2 separate regions of the Homo sapiens genome follow, and region 1 is linked to region 2. Evidence: fine-mapped expression QTL. Tissue or cell type: whole blood. Region 2 holds a variant in brackets; the other region holds the start of a gene. All regions are shown on one strand. Distances are from middle to middle.

Region 1 (8,104 bases), 75 kb after region 2:
AAATTAGCTGGGCATAGTGGTACATGCTGGTGGTCCCAGCTACTTGGGAGGCTGAGGCAAGAGGATCGCTTAAGCCCGGGAGTTTGAGGTTGCAGTGAGCCAGAGCTGTGATTGCACCACATTCCAGTCTAGGCGACAGAGCAAGGTCCTCTCTCAAAAAAAAAAAAAAAAAAAGAAAAGTGGCTCTCTGAGGATGTTATTTAACTATATGGGTATAAGACTCAAATTAAATAGTTAAGCCGCCGGGCGCGGTGGCTCATGCCTGTAATCCCAGCACTTTGGGAGGCCGAGGCGGGTGGATCACGAGGTCAGGAGATCGAGACCATCCTGGCTAACACGGTGAAATGCCGTCTCTACTAAAAATACAAAAAATTAGCCGGCGTGGTGGCGGGCACTTGTAGTCCCAGCTACTCAGGAGGCTGAGGCAGGAGAATGGTGTGAATCCAGGAGGCAGAGCTTGCAGTGAGCCGAGATCGCGCCACTGCACTCTAGCCTGGGTGACAGAGCAAGACTCCATCTCAAAAAATAAATAAATAAATAGTTAAGCCTTGAAAACTGCTGCCTCTAGGGGAGGAATAGAGGCCTTGGAGACCCTCACAGCACACAGACCTGGGAGCTCAAAGGCTGAATTTACCTTCCAGGGCGTAGCAGGCCTCTGATCAGTTCCCACCCCACTGCAGAGTATCCCAGTGTCACAGAACTTTTTACAAATAAACTAGGACATAGCCAGGTGAGACGTTCCCATACTTTAAACTACTAGGACAGAAATGCAACAGAGATCTTAAAATGGTTCTTGCTGAAACACAAGATGAAAGTTAAGTCCCTCTCTCTCTCCCTCTGCCTCTCCGTCTCCCTCTCCCCACGGTCTCCCTCTCCCTCTTTCCACGGTCTCCCTCTGATGCCGAGCCGAAGCTGGACTGTACTGCTGCCATCTCGGCTCACTGCAACCTCCCTGCCTGATTCTCCTGCCTCAGCCTGCCCAGCGCCTGCGATTGCAGGCGCGCGCTGCCACGCCTGACTGGTTTTCGTATTTTTTTGGTGGAGACGGGGTTTCGCTGTGTTGGCCGGGCTGGTCTCCAGCTCCTAACCGCGAGTGATCCGCCAGCCTCGGCCTCCAGAGGTGCCGGGATTGCAGACGGTGTCTGGTTCACTCAGTGCTCAATGGTGCCCAGGCTGGAGTGCAGTGGCATGATCTCGGCTCGCTATAGCCTCCACCTCCCAGCCGCCTGCCTTGGCCTCCCAAAGTGTCCAGAGTGCAGCCTCTGCCCGGCCACCACCCCGTCTGGGAAGTGAGGAGCGTCTCTGCCTGGCCGCCCATCATCTGGGATGTGAGGAGCCCCTCTGCCTGGCTGCCCAGCCTGGAAAGTGAGGAGCGTCTCTGCCCGGCCGCCCATCGTCTGAGATGTGGGGAGCGCCTTTGCCCCGCCGCCCCATCTGGGATGTGAGGAGCGCCTCTGCCCGGCCGCGACCCCGTCTGGGAGGTGAGGAGCATCTCTGCCCAGCCACCCCGTCTGAGAAGGGAGGAGACCCTCCGCCCGGCAGCCGCCCTGTCTGAGAAGTGAGGAGCCCCTCCGCCCGGCAGCCGCCCCGTCTGAGAAGTGAGGAGCCCCTCCGCCCGGCAGCCGCCCCGTCTGGGAAGTGAGGAGCGTCTCCGCCCGGCAGCCGCCCCGTCCGGGAGGGAGTTGGGGGTCAGCCCCCGCCAGGCCAGCCGCCCCGTCTGGGAGGGAGGTAGGGGGCTCAGCCGCCCGGCCAGCCGCCCCATCCGGGAGGGAGTGCGGCGGGTCAGCCCCCCGCCCGGCCAGCCGCCCCGTACTGGGAGGTGAGGGGCACCTCTGCCTGCCGCCCCTAATGCGAAGTGAGGAGCCCCTCTGGCCCGGGCCAGCCGCCCGGTCCGGGAGGGGAGGTCAGGGGGTCAGCCCCCCGCCCGGCCAGCCGCCCCGTCCAGGAGGTGAGGGGGCGCCTCTGCCCGGGCCGCCCCTACTGGGAAGTGAGGAGCCCCTCTGCCCGGCCAGGCCGCCCCGTCCGGGAGGGAGGTGGGGGGTCAGCCCCCCGCCCGGCCAGCCGCCCCATCCGGGAGGGAGGTGGGGGGGGTCAGCCCCCTGCCCGGCCAGCCGCCCCGTCCAGGAGGTGAGGGGCGCCTCTGCCCGGCCGCCCCTACTGGGAAGTGAGGAGCCCCTCTGCCCGGCCACCACCCCATCTGGGAGGTGTGCCCAACAGCTCATTGAGAACGGGCCATGATGACAATGGCAGTTTTGTGGAATAGAAAGGGGGGAAAGGTGGGGAAAAGATTGAGAAATCGGATGGTTGCCGTGTCTGTGTGGAAAGAGGTAGACATGGGAGACTTTTCATTTTGTTCTGTACTAAGAAAAATTCTTCTGCCTTGGGATCCTGTTGATCTGTGACCTTACCCCCAACCCTGTGCTCTCTGAAACATGTGCTGTGTCCACTCAGGGTTAAATGGATTAAGGGCGGTACAAGATGTGCTTTGTTAAACAGATGCTTGAAAGCAGCATGCTCGTTAAGAGTCATCACCACTCCCTAATCTCAAGTACCCAGGGACACAAACACTCTGCCTAGGAAAACCAGAGACCTTTGTTCACTTGTTTATCTGCTGACCTTCCCTCCACTATTGTCCTATGACCCTGCCAAATCCCCCTCTGCGAGAAACACCCAAGAATGATCAATTGAAAAAAAAAAAAAAAGAAAGTTAATAATGGCAGGAACCTTGAGTTGAGCAACTGCTGTATATGCCAGACACTTTGCTAGGCACCTGACTCTCCAACCCCAGAAGGTGGGGTTTTACAATTTAAGGAAACTAAGGTCAGAAGTTAAGTAAACTGCCCCAGGTCTAACTGGGCTGATTAGTCTGGCCTTCGATCACACTGTTCTGTCACCATCAAATTCACCCTGAGGCTTGGGGACCACTTGTTCAGGGTAGAACACCTGGCAGAGGTGAGTAAGGACTTGGCCCTCAAATACTAAATAAGGCACCTTCCCATTGCCCCCAGCAGGTACCCAAAGACTGGCTGGACCGGTCGCAGGCACTTGGGATGGAGGTAGGTCCCAGTGGGGCAGCTGAAGGGCTGAGGGCACATGAACAAACAAGGGCTGGGGATTGGGGGAGGACTGCGGCTAGCCAGAGCAAGGCAGACAGACTCCAACCCACGGGTACAAGATCACAGAGGGCACAGGTGGCACAGGCCAGCCCCTACCACCAGGAACAAAGAAACAGTGAATGGCTGTTTGTATCCCATTTACCTAGAGGACATTAAAATATCTGAGAATGTAAGTAAGAGGCTCACAGGCTTATTTTGATTGGCTGGCCATTTAAAAGCCAGAGATTTACATAAAAACCTAGATTTCAGCTTCTTGACAAATGAGAAATTCTCCACGGAGCCCACAATGCCAAACAGTGAAGGGCCCTCTGGATAGGGCATGTGCTCTCCAGCTCGCTGCGGGCCGCACCGAGACCCCCACCCCTTCCCATTATCTGCCTGGCAGTTGCCCGGGGACAAAGGTGTGCACAGTTGTGCAGTAGGTTATGAAGGAGTATCTGGGTGCCCATACACCCTAAGACCAAGACCAAGTCTTCCAGGAAGCCATCAAGCCAGCTGATTCCAGGCAAGCAGGTCCAAGTTATCAGATTCACCTGCGCAGAGCAAATGGCTAGGAAGCGGCTTCCGGATCTCTTGAAGGGCCATGCAGTGAAGGTCCGTCACCAAGGGGACCATGCCCCACAAGAAGTTGCTCCCCGCCCCCACGCCTCATTTTGATCCAACATACACCCAAGTCCCAAAGTTTCTGCGGGCTAAGGCTGCCTCCTCCATCACTGCTGAACTCCCAGCACACAGCACACAGCCTAGCACTCAGAGTGTACTCAATAAATGTAGACTTCATACCTGCAGAGCCTAAGGCACTGCTTAGGGCTGCCTCAGGGTCAATCCAAACCTTTCACTTGCCAACTGCCATTCAATGAGTCCCTACTCTGCTCCAAGCTGAAAGACATCCTAGGCGTTCCCTACAGTTCCTTCTAGTCGGGGTAGGGTCTGCCGCTGCACAGCTGACATAATTAATCACTTCCTTCCAAACCTTGAGTCCCGAAGGAAGCGGCCACACTGCCCGGCTCACCGCTCACCGGCTGGCATGGTGTCTCGTGGAGCTGCAAGTTACTTAACCTCTCTGTGCGCTTCCCCAGCCTTAGAGTGGGGATAAGCTGGGGTTTCTCTAGGCATCAGAAAAAAGAAAGCGCGAGAAGCATTCAGAACTGTGCGAGATATGATCAGTGTTCGCCGCTGTTATTTCTCTCATTTTATCCTCAGATTCGTCCTGGGGTGTCACCCCCGTCACCCCGAAAGGATCTGCGGCTGCCCCTCCCCAGCGCTTGCCTTGCTGGCCAGAGGGGCCAAGGGAACTGGTGGCCTCCCTCGGGTCAGCCTCGCCCACCGCGCCGGAGGAAGGAGATCCAGGAGTGGGGTTCTTGTCCTCCGCCCCCCAAACCTCGTCACGACTGCAGCCGGCCCGGCGGGGGCCCCGCCGTCCGCCTCAGTCTGGACCTCTGTAAAATGGGGGTAACAGCGCCGACCTGGGGGGCCCGCCCCGGGGATGAACGGCCGCCCAGAGCGACTCGGGACCTCACGTTACCAGCAGGCTGGCACGACTAGCAGGTTACGGCTCGCCAGGCGGCCGGGGCTGCGACTGACCTGGCGCCCTCGCCCAGCTCCCCATGCGTGTTGTAATTCACTGTCATGACCTTCACGGAGTCCTTGAACACCACGTTCCCCTGGCTCAGATATTGCAGGGTGCGGCGGATGGGGAAGCGGCCCTTCATGGGCATGGCGGCAACGGTGGCGGGGCCGACCCCACGGGCCGCGAGCCGAGCAGCGACGAGAAAGGACTAGCTAGCACCCGCGCGGATCTCACGCGGCTTCTCCCCAGAGCCAGGTTCCACTTCCCGCGCAGACGCACAGGAGACGCTTCCCGGCGGGCAGCGCACGCCGCGGAGCACTCTGGGACTTGTAGGCGGCCTTCGACCCGGCGCGGCGAGAACCGGTGTGTGCAGCTTCGCTTTAGGACGCCTTCCCCTTGGAAGGTTTAGGTTGTCGCGTCCTGTAAATTAGTCATTTCCCCATCCACCCACGGGAAAATATTTTTACATAGGCTAAAAGTCAGACATTGCAATAAGAAATAATCAGGAAAGCTCAGTTTGGATACCAAGTCAGCTGATAACGTCCTATTGAACGTATTGTCCATTTTTCTCCCCAAACATCTCCAGTTTTATCATGAAGAGTTCAAACTGCACTTTCTGACGTTGACTTAAACTTCTTAGCAAAAGAAAAAAAGATGGTTTGGGATCAATTCCTTCCTAAATTCAGCCACTTAACTCAGGACCTCAATTTTTTCGTAAACAAACTATGGGTGAGATGTATTTCTAGGGCCAGGCGCGGTGGCTCCCGCCTGTAAACCCAGCCTTTGGGGAAGCCGAGGCGGAAGGATCGCTTGAGGTCAGGAATTCGAGACCAGCCTGCCCAACATGGCGAAACCCCGTCTCTACTGAAAATACAAAAATTAGCCTGGTGTGGTGGCAGCACCTGTGGTCCCAGCTACTCAGAAGACTGAGGTGGGAGGATCGCTCGAACCCGGGAAGTTGCAGTGAGCCGAGATCGCGCCACTGCACTCCAGCCTGGGCGACAGAGCAAGACTCCCTCTCAAAAAAAAAAAAGATACATTTCTGAAGTACTCTTGATCTGAAAGGTATTTCTCCTTCTCTTTTGAAGAGTGATTTTGCCAGATTTAGAATTCTAGGTTAGTGTTTTTCCTTTCCCTCCCTCCCTTCTGGAGTGCAATGGTGCTATCTTGGCTCACCGCAACCTCCGCCTCCCAGGTTCAAGTGATTCTCCTGCCTCAGCCTCCCGAGTAGCCGGACTTACAGGCATGCGCCACTACACCCAGCTAATTTTGTATTGTCAGTAGAGACGGGGATTCTCCATGTTGGTCAGGCTGGTATCAAACTCCTGACCTCAGATGATCCGCCCGTCTCAGCTTCCCAAAGTGCTGGGATTACAGGCGTGAGCCACTGCGCCTGGCCCTGGTGTTTTTCTTTCAACAATTTAAATAGTTCACTCCACTCTTTTTTTGCTTGCATGGTTTCAAACAAGTAATTAAATGCAATTACATTTATAGGTATGATGGCTTTTTCCTTTAGCTTCTTTCAAATTTTCTCTTGGTGTTTGGTTTACGGGGTTAGAATAAGGTAATGCAGATCTGTAGATGTTTTGTATTTGTCCTGCTTGGAGTCCTCTGAGCCTCCTGGATCTGTGATTTCATGTCTGTCATTAATTTTGTAAAGTTCTTAGCCATTTATTAGTTCAGGTATTTATTCTTCACTCTTTTCTCTTTCTAGTATTCAAGTTAAATGCATTTTATGTCTTCTGGAATTGCCTCATAGTTCTCGAATGTTCTGGCGGGGTGATGGAGGTTCTCTTTGCATTTTAGTGGGGAAGTTTCTGTTGACCTATCTTCAAATTCATTTAATCTTTGGTTATGGACAGTCTACTGATAAGCCCATTAAGGCATTTTTCATTTAAGGTTTTAACTTCTAGCACTTCCTTTTGATTCTTAGGGTGTTTGTTTGTTTGTTTTGAGACAAAGTCTCTGTCACCCAGCCTGGAGTGCACTGGTGCAATCTCTGCTCACTGCAACCTCTACCTCCTGGGCTCAAGCAATTCTCCCACCTCTGCCACTTAGCTGGGACTACAGGTGCACACCACCATGCCTGGCTAATTTTTTTTTTTTTTTTTTTTGAGACGAAGTCTCGCTCTGTCACCCAGGCTGGAGTGCAATGGCACTATCTTGGCTCACTGCAACCTCTGCCTCCCAGGTTCAAATGATTCTCCTGCCTCAGCCTCCCAAGTGGCTGAGATTACAGGTGCCCACCACCACACCCAGCTAGTTTTTGTATTTTTAGTAGAGACAGGGTTTCACCATGTTGGCCAGGCTGGTCTTGAACTCCTGACCTCGTGATCCACCCGCATTGGCCTCCCAAAGTGCTGTGATTACAGTCATGAGCCACTGTGCCCAGTCTAATTTTTGTATTTTTAGTAGAGATGGGGTTTCACCTTGTTGGCCTGGCTGGTCTCAAACTCCTGACCTCAAGTGATCTGCCTGCCTCAGCCTCCCAAACTGCTGGGATTACAAGTGTGAACCACCACACCTCGCATGATTCTTAGTTTTCTTATGTCTGTTTACATTACCCATCTGTTCTTGTATGTTGTTTACTTTTACCATTAGACCCCTTAACAGACCACATTTTAAATTTCTTGTCTGATAATTCCAATATCTGAGTGTGATTCTGATGTTTGCTTTGTTTCATCTGATTGTTGGGTTTATTTTTTTCCTTGCCTTTTAGCATGCTTATAATTTTTTTGTTGAAGGTAGAATATCCACTCTATTGGGCCATAGGAACTGGGGTAAATAAGCCTCTAGAATGAGAACTTATGTTAATCTGGCTCAGAGTTGAGAGCTGTGTTTAATGTTTGCCATAGCTGTAGGTGTCAGAGGCTTCCAGTTCCTCTAGTGTCTTTGTGTTTATCTCCTCTTGCCTTTGGGCTTCCCTCGATATTCCTCCTGAGAGAGTCCGTGTCTTGCAGCTCTTCCAGGTATAATTCACTGTTACTATCCTGGAGTCCTGTTGATGTGGTGGAAAAACATGGGGGAGGTGAAGCATTCTATAATCTTACGATTAAATCTCAGCATTTTAGTGGGCTTGTGTCCTTGGGCTGTGACCTACACAAGTGTTCTTTCCTTTTTTTTTCTTTTTCTTTTTTTTTTTTTTTTTTGAGGCAGTGTCTTGCTCTATCACCCAGGCTAGAGCGCAGTACAGTGGCGCAATCACAGCTCACTGCAGCCTCTACTTCCCAGGCTCAAGCAATTCTCCCACCTCAGCCCCGAGTAGCTTGGACTATGGCATGTGCCACAATGCCTGGTTAATTTTTGTATTTTTTGTAAAGATGAGGTTTTGCTATATTGCCCAGACTGGTCTTGAACTCCCGGGCTCAAGCAATCTGCCCACCTTGGCCTCCCAAAGTGCTGGAATTACAGGCGTGAG
Region 2 (8,104 bases):
TTTTTTCCAGATTTTCTCAAGCATAAATAGTACAGTGATGGACATCTTTATATATGCCTCCTTGGGCTCATATGTGGGAGTATCTCTGTAGACTAGAAGTAGAATTTGAAATTAAAAGCTATCTGGGTCAAAGTGTGTCTTCTAAGGGTTTTTCTTTTTTTTCCCAACAGTTTTTTAACAGTCACATAACTTCATATGCAAGAAGTAGCACCATTAACTAGATCAGTTATTAATTCAGCAGGTATGCATCGAGTACATACTGTGAGAACCTTCCTCTTAGGGGTTTCCAATTCCTTCAGACTCAGTGCCCCCTTTTTAAACAGTATTTTTTTAAAGACCCTTTTACTGTACCAAGGTGATACTCATAGAAAATAAAAGCATTCATATGCAAATAACTTACAAAAATCAATATATAATAATAATTATATTCAGGAGAAATAAAAGGAAAGCAGCCTATTATGAAATAATGTGTATTTCATGTAAATGCTTAGGAATAACTACCAAAGATGATATGACAAGTCACATACTTCTTAAGTAAGTACATACTTAAATAAGGGTACTAAGAAGATACAATTGTTTTGTAGATGAAATGTAGAGTCAGCTGGAATAAATGTTAAATGGAATTAATGTTAGAATAAGTGAGACTAGACTTACTTATGATAAAAACGGTTGACAGGAGGAGTTATTAAGAAGGAGAAAATTGAGGAAGGATGATGTCCTTGCAAAAGATCCATACCTTATGTGGAAGTGTTGTGCCAAAATGATTTCTTACGGTATGTCTTGCCACAGAGTAATGACATTCTGTCATAGAGAACATCTCCTTTCTTGAAATCTGTGTCTGAGGTATACCTTTAGTGTCTGATACTTTAAAAAAGACCTTGGAAAGCATATCCTTTTATTGGTCACAGAAAATAGAGAATTAGAAAATGAAAGCATTTTGTCTACCAGAATAAAAAATCAAAAATTAGCATCTGCTATGGGAGAAGATAACATCTTATTCAGGGTCACAGGTTGAGCATTGCACTTGATTTCTTCAGGGAAATTGTTAATAGGAGTGCCACCCAAACGTGAACGTAATTCTAAGTGTAGTGTGTTTCCATGTAATCAGCTGCCCACCAGGATGATTCAGGTTAGCTTTGTAATTGCAGAAGCAGCCTAGTTTTTTTAAATCTTTAGTAGCAATTAATAGGCAAGGAGACTGATAATTATGTTTCACAGTAGACTTTTATACCTCATTTTACCAAGAAAAAAAGTTTCTGTGTTATTTCTTAGATGGGTAAGAAGAGTTTTTATTTATTTTTTATTTTATTTGAGGCAGATTCTCACTCTGCCACCCAGGCTGGAGTCCAGTGGCAGGAACACAGCTCACTGCAATTTCAATCTCCTGGGCTCAAGCAATCCTCCCACCTCAGCCTCCCAAGTAGCTGGGACTGCAGGCACATGCCACCACACCCAGCTGGTTTTTTTATTTTTTGTAGAGATGAGGTCTCTCTGTGTTACCCAGGATGGTCTTGAACTCCGGGGCGTAAGCAATCCTTCCGCCTTGGCCTCGCAGAGTGCTGGGATTAGAGGTATGAGCCACCATGCCCTGCCAAGTTTTTCTTTTAAAAGTGAAGAAAAATATGAAGAACACCAGTAATTTCAGATGTGGGGTAGAAAATAAGATCATTCATACTGCTAATTTCTAGCAATATTTGCTGGTTTTAAAAGGTAGCCTTGTATTTGAAAGTTTTTTTTAATTATAAAAGTTGTTAATTTCTTTATTACCACACTATGTAAAAATAGTCATTTCCACCTCTACCTCTGTCACTTCTTAATCTCCTTACTCGTACTTGTCTTCCTCCATAATGCTTCTCATTATCTACAAACATATATACTTAATTTGTTTATCACATTAGAATGTAGATTCCAGGAAGACCAGAACTTTATTTCATTTGCTGTTGTGTTCCCAGTGCCTGAAATACAGTGCCTGGAACACAGTGAGCAATCAAGATACGTTTATTGAATGAATAAATCTTTTGCTCTTTTCTCACGTGCATATCATCTGGTTGTAATCACAGTGTGCATATAACTTTGTGTCTTGTGTTTTTATAAAATGTTATTACACAGAATAAATATCATCTTTTCCCCAGGTTGCCACATAACCTGCTTTGATCATTATTTTTCTGTATCCCGGAAACATAGCATAATTTACTAACCCGTCTCCTAGTTTGGGACATATAAATTGCTTTTGATCTTTCTGTATTATAAATTAATAGTATATTCATGTGAGGATGAAAAGATGCACAGATGGACAGACAGATGTATATATAGACAGACAGGTAAACTTTACAGTGGAAGAACTGGAGAAGTAGCTCTGCAGCTTGGAACAACACCCAGAATCACACTGCAGAGCCAGTCTCGTGAAGCTATGGCTGTACAGCCAGTACCACAAAGCTTGGAGATGGACCTCCAGCTTCCAGTGCCAAGTCTCTCAGACCAGTGAATCTTATTGACCCCCTGCTCTCCTCCAAGGGAAGCAGGACTGCAAATATCTGGTATTGTCTGTTTTTACAGGTAGAGAGAGGCACTGCCTCACCCAAACCACTGGGAGAAGGAATTCTTATATTTCCTAGAAAAATAATTTAGGACCACACACTGATAAAGCCATTTCTATATTTAGGATAATTTATATAACGTGGGTTCCCAGAAGTATAATTATCAGGCCAGAGGGCAGGAGCAAATTCTGATGATGAAGGACCAGATCTCTTGACCTCAATGGTTTAGTCTTGGAACTTTTTGCTTCCTTTATTAATCTTTCCTTTTACACATACGTAAAGCACATTTATTGGCTGTACTTATTCACTTAGTGAATAGAGTGTTTTGTTTCTTAGAACTTTAAATAGTTGTTGAGGTGAAGGGACTTATAGTCAAAGGAGAATCATCATCTCTTTTTTTTCCCCTCTTGATTAATTTTTTTTCTCTTTTAGATAGCGGTGCCTGGGTTTGTGCTAGAATCTGAAAATGGATGACATATTCATCCATTCATCACATATGGTGAATTTATTTCACCATAAATTGTTTTATGTTAGTGCACATGCAAACTTCTGTTTGTATGTGTGGAGTGGAAATTTCATCATTTATAGCAGTGTGAATTTATTCTCAAATGTTTTCTTTCAGCCTCCTTCTCCACCCTATGTAAAAGTAAATATCCGTAATACCTCTTTTCTCCTACTCTTCCCCTAGGCTTTTGTTTTGTTTTTGCTGATTGGTCAGCATTCACTTCATATCAGTTGTTGAGGTATAAAAACCAAGTAATGAGTCCCCATGTCCATCAGGGGGCTACAGCCTGCCTTAGTGGCAGGTGCTCTTGTCTCAAAGCCAGAGAACCTAGGTGTTAGTTTCAGCCTCACCACTAATGCACTGTGACTTCAGGAGCTCCCTCCCCTCAGTGGCTTTGGGGAAGGGGTGGGACTTAGAGTTGAAGTCATTCTGTGGACCTATTACAGTGTTCTTCATTTGCTCTGACTACATTTGCGTATCTTCCTGCCAGAATGGGAGGCTTCTGAGTCCAGAACTCAATCTTGTATTCATGTGCCCGGTGCGTGTTGGGTGGATATGGTTAAATGAGCCCAGTTTTGTTGTTCTTGTGGGTCTTTTCTATGTAACACAGTCCATATATTCTTGCCTACACTTTAAGTGAAAGAGGAACTTGTAAAGACCTCCTATCTTTAAGAATATTAGGGCCAGGCATGGTAGCTCACACCTGTAATTCCAGTGCTTTGAGAGGCCCAGGTGGAAGGATCACATGAGTTCAGGTATCAGTCTGGGCAACATAGTAAGACCCTGTGTCTACAAAAACTAAATTAAAGAAAAAATTTGACTGGGTGTGGTGGCTCACGACCTGTAATCCCAACGCTTTGGGAAGCTGAGGGAGGCAGATCACATGAGGTCAGGAGCTTGAGACCAGCCTGGCCAACATGGTGAAACCCCATCTCTACTAAAAATACAAAATTAGCAGGGTGTGGTGGCAGGCACCTGTAATCCCAGCTACTCGAGAGGTGGAGATAAGAGAATCGCTTGAACCTGGGAGATGGAGGTTGCAGTGAGCCGAGATTGCACTCCAGCCTGGGCGACAAGAGCAAGACTCCATCTCAAAAAAAAAAAAAAAAAAAAAAAAAAAAATTACTGGGTGTGGTGGCACATACCTGTAGTCCTGGCTACTCTGAGAGGCTGAGGCAGGAGGATCACTTGAGCCCAGGAGGTCAAGGCTGCAGTGAGCCATGATTGCACCACTGGCACTGCAGCCTGAGTGACAGAGCCAGACCTTGTCTTTATTTAATAAAAAGAAGAATATTAGATT[A/C]CTGCACCGTTAGGTTGAAGATGCTATATGCAGAACATGGTGTTTCTGGGCTCTCCAGGTCTTTCCTCCTCTCCTTGTAGGTTTAAAAATGTTTTGAGTTGGTTGGACTCCATGGTAACATTCTTGTGAACTTTCAGTTGAGGAAAGGTGATCTTTAAGGGGAAAGGGGTGGAGGGAGAGAGAGTTTAACAGTGGCAGCAATCTAGGTGAAGGGAGAACTTTGTAAAGCAGAGTACATCTTCCCTAGAAGCAATTAGTCATATTATTAGACAAACTGTTTCAGCAGCTGGCAAAACAGCAGGAACATGTCGATTTTGCTTCCTTGGTTACAGGCAGTGATAGTGTACTTGACCTTCCGCAGAGCTGGGTCACAGAGAGGGCATCTTTAAACAGCCCTGTCTGGTTTGGGTGAATGGAATCTGCACTGGCAGGGTTTGAAAGCAAATGCCTGTGAGTTCCCTCAACCAACCTCTGGCCTTTTGGGTTGGACTCTCTTTGGCCTGGGAGGTTGCTGAGGAAAAATATAAATAAAGCTGCAGGGAGCCATTGGCATGGTAAGTGTGAGTGTCCTAAAGAAAACAAGACTGCAGTATTGAAGTCTATTCTCTTTCCCTGTGTTTCTGGGGGAGAAGCCTTGTAATGCAATGTATTTCAGTAGTCACTTATTTTTACAGCAGTTAGTATAATAGCAGTGGATTTAGACACCTATTGTATATTTGAAGAAATTCAATTTAATGTCTTGCTATGCTAAGCTCTTAGCAAATCGTTTCTTAATAGGAACTTGTATTTGAATATGCTGGCTAAATTCAGGTGGGGCAAAAGTTGTTTGTTGTTTTTGGCAGGTTACTCTGCCTGTGAACAGTTTATGAACCATATTGCTCTTAAATATCTCATTGTTTTACATAATTGTGGGGAGTGGTTGTTGACTTGGGATTTTTGTTTTTTTGTGACAAGAAATTTAGCGCTAAGTTTTACCTTTTTAAAATCTCTATTGCCAACTGTAAAATTCAAAACTGGCTAATGAATTCTGATATAAATGATGCTGGTTTATAATATTTAGGTTTCATTCCCTCATTAGCTTTACTGTAAAGAAGAGCTGGATATATATGTCATCAAGAGAAGTAGTTCTTTACTAACACTGTTATTGTAAGGTTCCAGTCCTTTGAGGACTGGAACTGCACATAAAAGTCAGCAGCCTCCTGTGGATTCTTCTCGCTGATGCAAGTTGCTGCACAAAGGGGGTTAATCTCTTTGCCCATTGGCCCTTCAACACACTTACTATTTAATGGTCCTTTGAAATAAACTAAAGGAGGGTATGTGGTACATTTCAGTTCAAGCTGGAGGTGTCCCCTGCCTAACACCCTTTACCCTACTTAAGGGTTTTACATTGTTCATGATTTCACTGAAGTGTTGAGAAGTACTGAGTTCCTGTTTGAGATTTGTAACACTAGATCTGCACAATGTTTTTTCACAGAGTGTAACTCTGTTATCCTATTAGTAACCCATGAGAATTTTTGTAGCCAAAATCCAGAATAAGTTATAGATTTGGAAACTCTTAATATTGCACATTTAATTCAATGAAATGAGCATCTTTTTCTCTTTTTTAATCCCTTTTTTCTTTTTTTTTTTTCTTTTTCTTTTTTTTTTTTTTGGAGATAGGGTCTTGCTATCTCAAAGGCTGGAGCACAGTGGTGCCATCATAGCTTACTGTCACTGTAGCCTCAAACTCCTGAGCTCAAGTGCTCCTTCCGCCTCAGCCTCCTAAGCAGCTGGGACTGCAGGCATGCGACACCACGCCTGGATAATGTTTTTAATTTTTAGTAGGGATGGGGTCTTGCAATGCTGTCCAGGCTGGTACTCAAACTCCTGGCCTCAAGTGATCTTCCTACCTCGCCCTCCCAAACTGCTGTGATTATAGACATGAGCCGCTGCACCTGGCCTGTGAGCATCTTCTTCAACCTAGATGTTCATTTTTCAGCAAGTGATTCCATGTAAACGTCAGAAATTTTTCCTGACAATTATTTCCTTATAAAACAAACAAACAACAAAAACAACAACAACAAAAACCCTGCTGCCAAAGCAATGTCATGCCATTATGGAATAGAGGAGGTTCTCATTCCAGGGTGAAGATGTATGAACTTCCTCAGCAGCCTCATAAACCCCCCTGTGTCGGTGGAAGCCAGTACTCCTTGGTTTATATAATGAACTGCCAGGGCAGGTGTTGTGCTGTACCTCCAGGGTGTGTAATTAGCAGACAGGCACAAGAGTAGAGTAAAGCAAAGCAAAGTCTAGGCAGAGTCCCAGGATCAAAGGCTTAAGACAGAGACTGCTTATTCATCCCCTAAGGTATTCATTCCCTAAGTGTTCATTCACTAAGCATTCATTGTGGGCCTAATATGTGCCTGGCCTTGGGAATAAACAGAGAAATAGGAAATGTGGTGTTCTGTGGAGAGTACTAAGGTGCAGGGACTGTGGGAACCCAGAGGAGGGCATTTGTATTAACCTGAGGGGTGTCAGGAAAGGCTGGCCAGAGGAGCATGGCTTTTATTAAATTATTTAGTGTTTAATAAAACATTTGTGTGTTCTGCAAGCGTGGTTACCTTTACAAAGGATGTGAAATGGAACAGATGATTTTACCCTCTAAGTATGAGTTTGGAGACCAAGCCTTGGAAGGCCTGTGTCTAAAGATATTTCACACCCAGCTTGCCCATGGTTTTAATTGAGTCCTTTGGACTGGCAGTTTTCCTGTCAAGGTAAAATGCCCTAACCAAGGTATAACACACACCTGGGTGTTGTCAGGCATTTATACAGTGTAAACTAAGTGATCCTGTCCTTTGCAACTTGAGCAGGTTGAAAGGGTAGAAAATAGGATAAGGCAGAAGCCAAGACTGACATTAGGCACTGAGGTGTGGGCAGGAAAAAATAGAAAGGAAATGCTTCAACTAGTCAGAAATGCATCTAATATTTTTATATCCTTTTTACCAAACTGACTTTTTATTGCTGTGCTGATGAGTCTCAATAAAATATTTCTGGGAAAAAAGGCCAAGCATGGTGGCTCACGTCTGTAGTCCTAGCCCTTTGGGAGGCCAAGACAGGCGGATCACCTGAGGTCAGGAGTTCGACACCAGCCTGGCCAACATGGTGAAACCCCGTCTCTACTAAAAATACAAAAATTAGCCGGGCATGGTGGTGGGTGCCTGTAATCCCAGCTGCTCGGGAGGCTGAGGCAGGAGAATCGCTTGAACCTGGGAGGCGGAGGTTACAGTGAGCCGAAGCTGCATCACTGCACTCCAGCCTGGGCGACAGGAGCAAAACTCCATCTCAAAAAAAAAAAAAAGAAATGTTTCTGGAAAAAAAGTAAATTTCCTTCCTTGATGTCTATTCATAATTATCAGACTGTAAATTCATACAACTGCAAGAATTTCTTAGCGGTCCCATCATAACATCACTTTGCCTTCATGCAAGACCATATCTCAGCTGCCTCTGGTGCCACTAGAACATACCTTTTTTCTAATGGCTTCAGGAGTAGGGGATCCCAAACATTTTCTGTTTAACCTGTCACTTCCAGAGTTAGTCGTCTTTTCACTGAATCTCAGGGCTATTCACTCAATCTAAATTTATTACTGAGCCTACAGGGAGCCCATTGCCAGTGTGACCCATGCCCCCTCTCAGGTAAAAGGTCTTTTGGGCTTCTCATATCAAGGGAATAAATAAAATTTGCAGATGTATCCCTGAACAGGTGAGGAAGCCAAAATCCAGGGA

Evidence for each region. PIP is the estimated chance that this variant, and not a neighbour inherited with it, causes the effect.
Region 1: MRPS25 starts here. The variant in region 2 is fine-mapped to the expression of MRPS25 in whole blood (TOPMed, PIP above 0.99).

Annotation. Positions count from the first base shown.
Region 1 is chr3:15,060,361-15,068,464 of GRCh38, forward strand. MRPS25 (mitochondrial ribosomal protein S25) reads right to left here and starts at 4,955. Exons shown (of 4, transcript NM_022497.5): 1 at 4,701-4,955. The coding sequence starts at 4,834. RefSeq lists an enhancer at 4,935-5,114.
Region 2 is chr3:14,985,790-14,993,893 of GRCh38, forward strand. The region is part of intron 1 of NR2C2 (nuclear receptor subfamily 2 group C member 2); the gene reads left to right. Among named protein-coding and RNA genes, the nearest start is that of FGD5-AS1, 41 kb to the left of the region's middle. The variant A/C (reference allele first, on the strand shown) is at 4,343.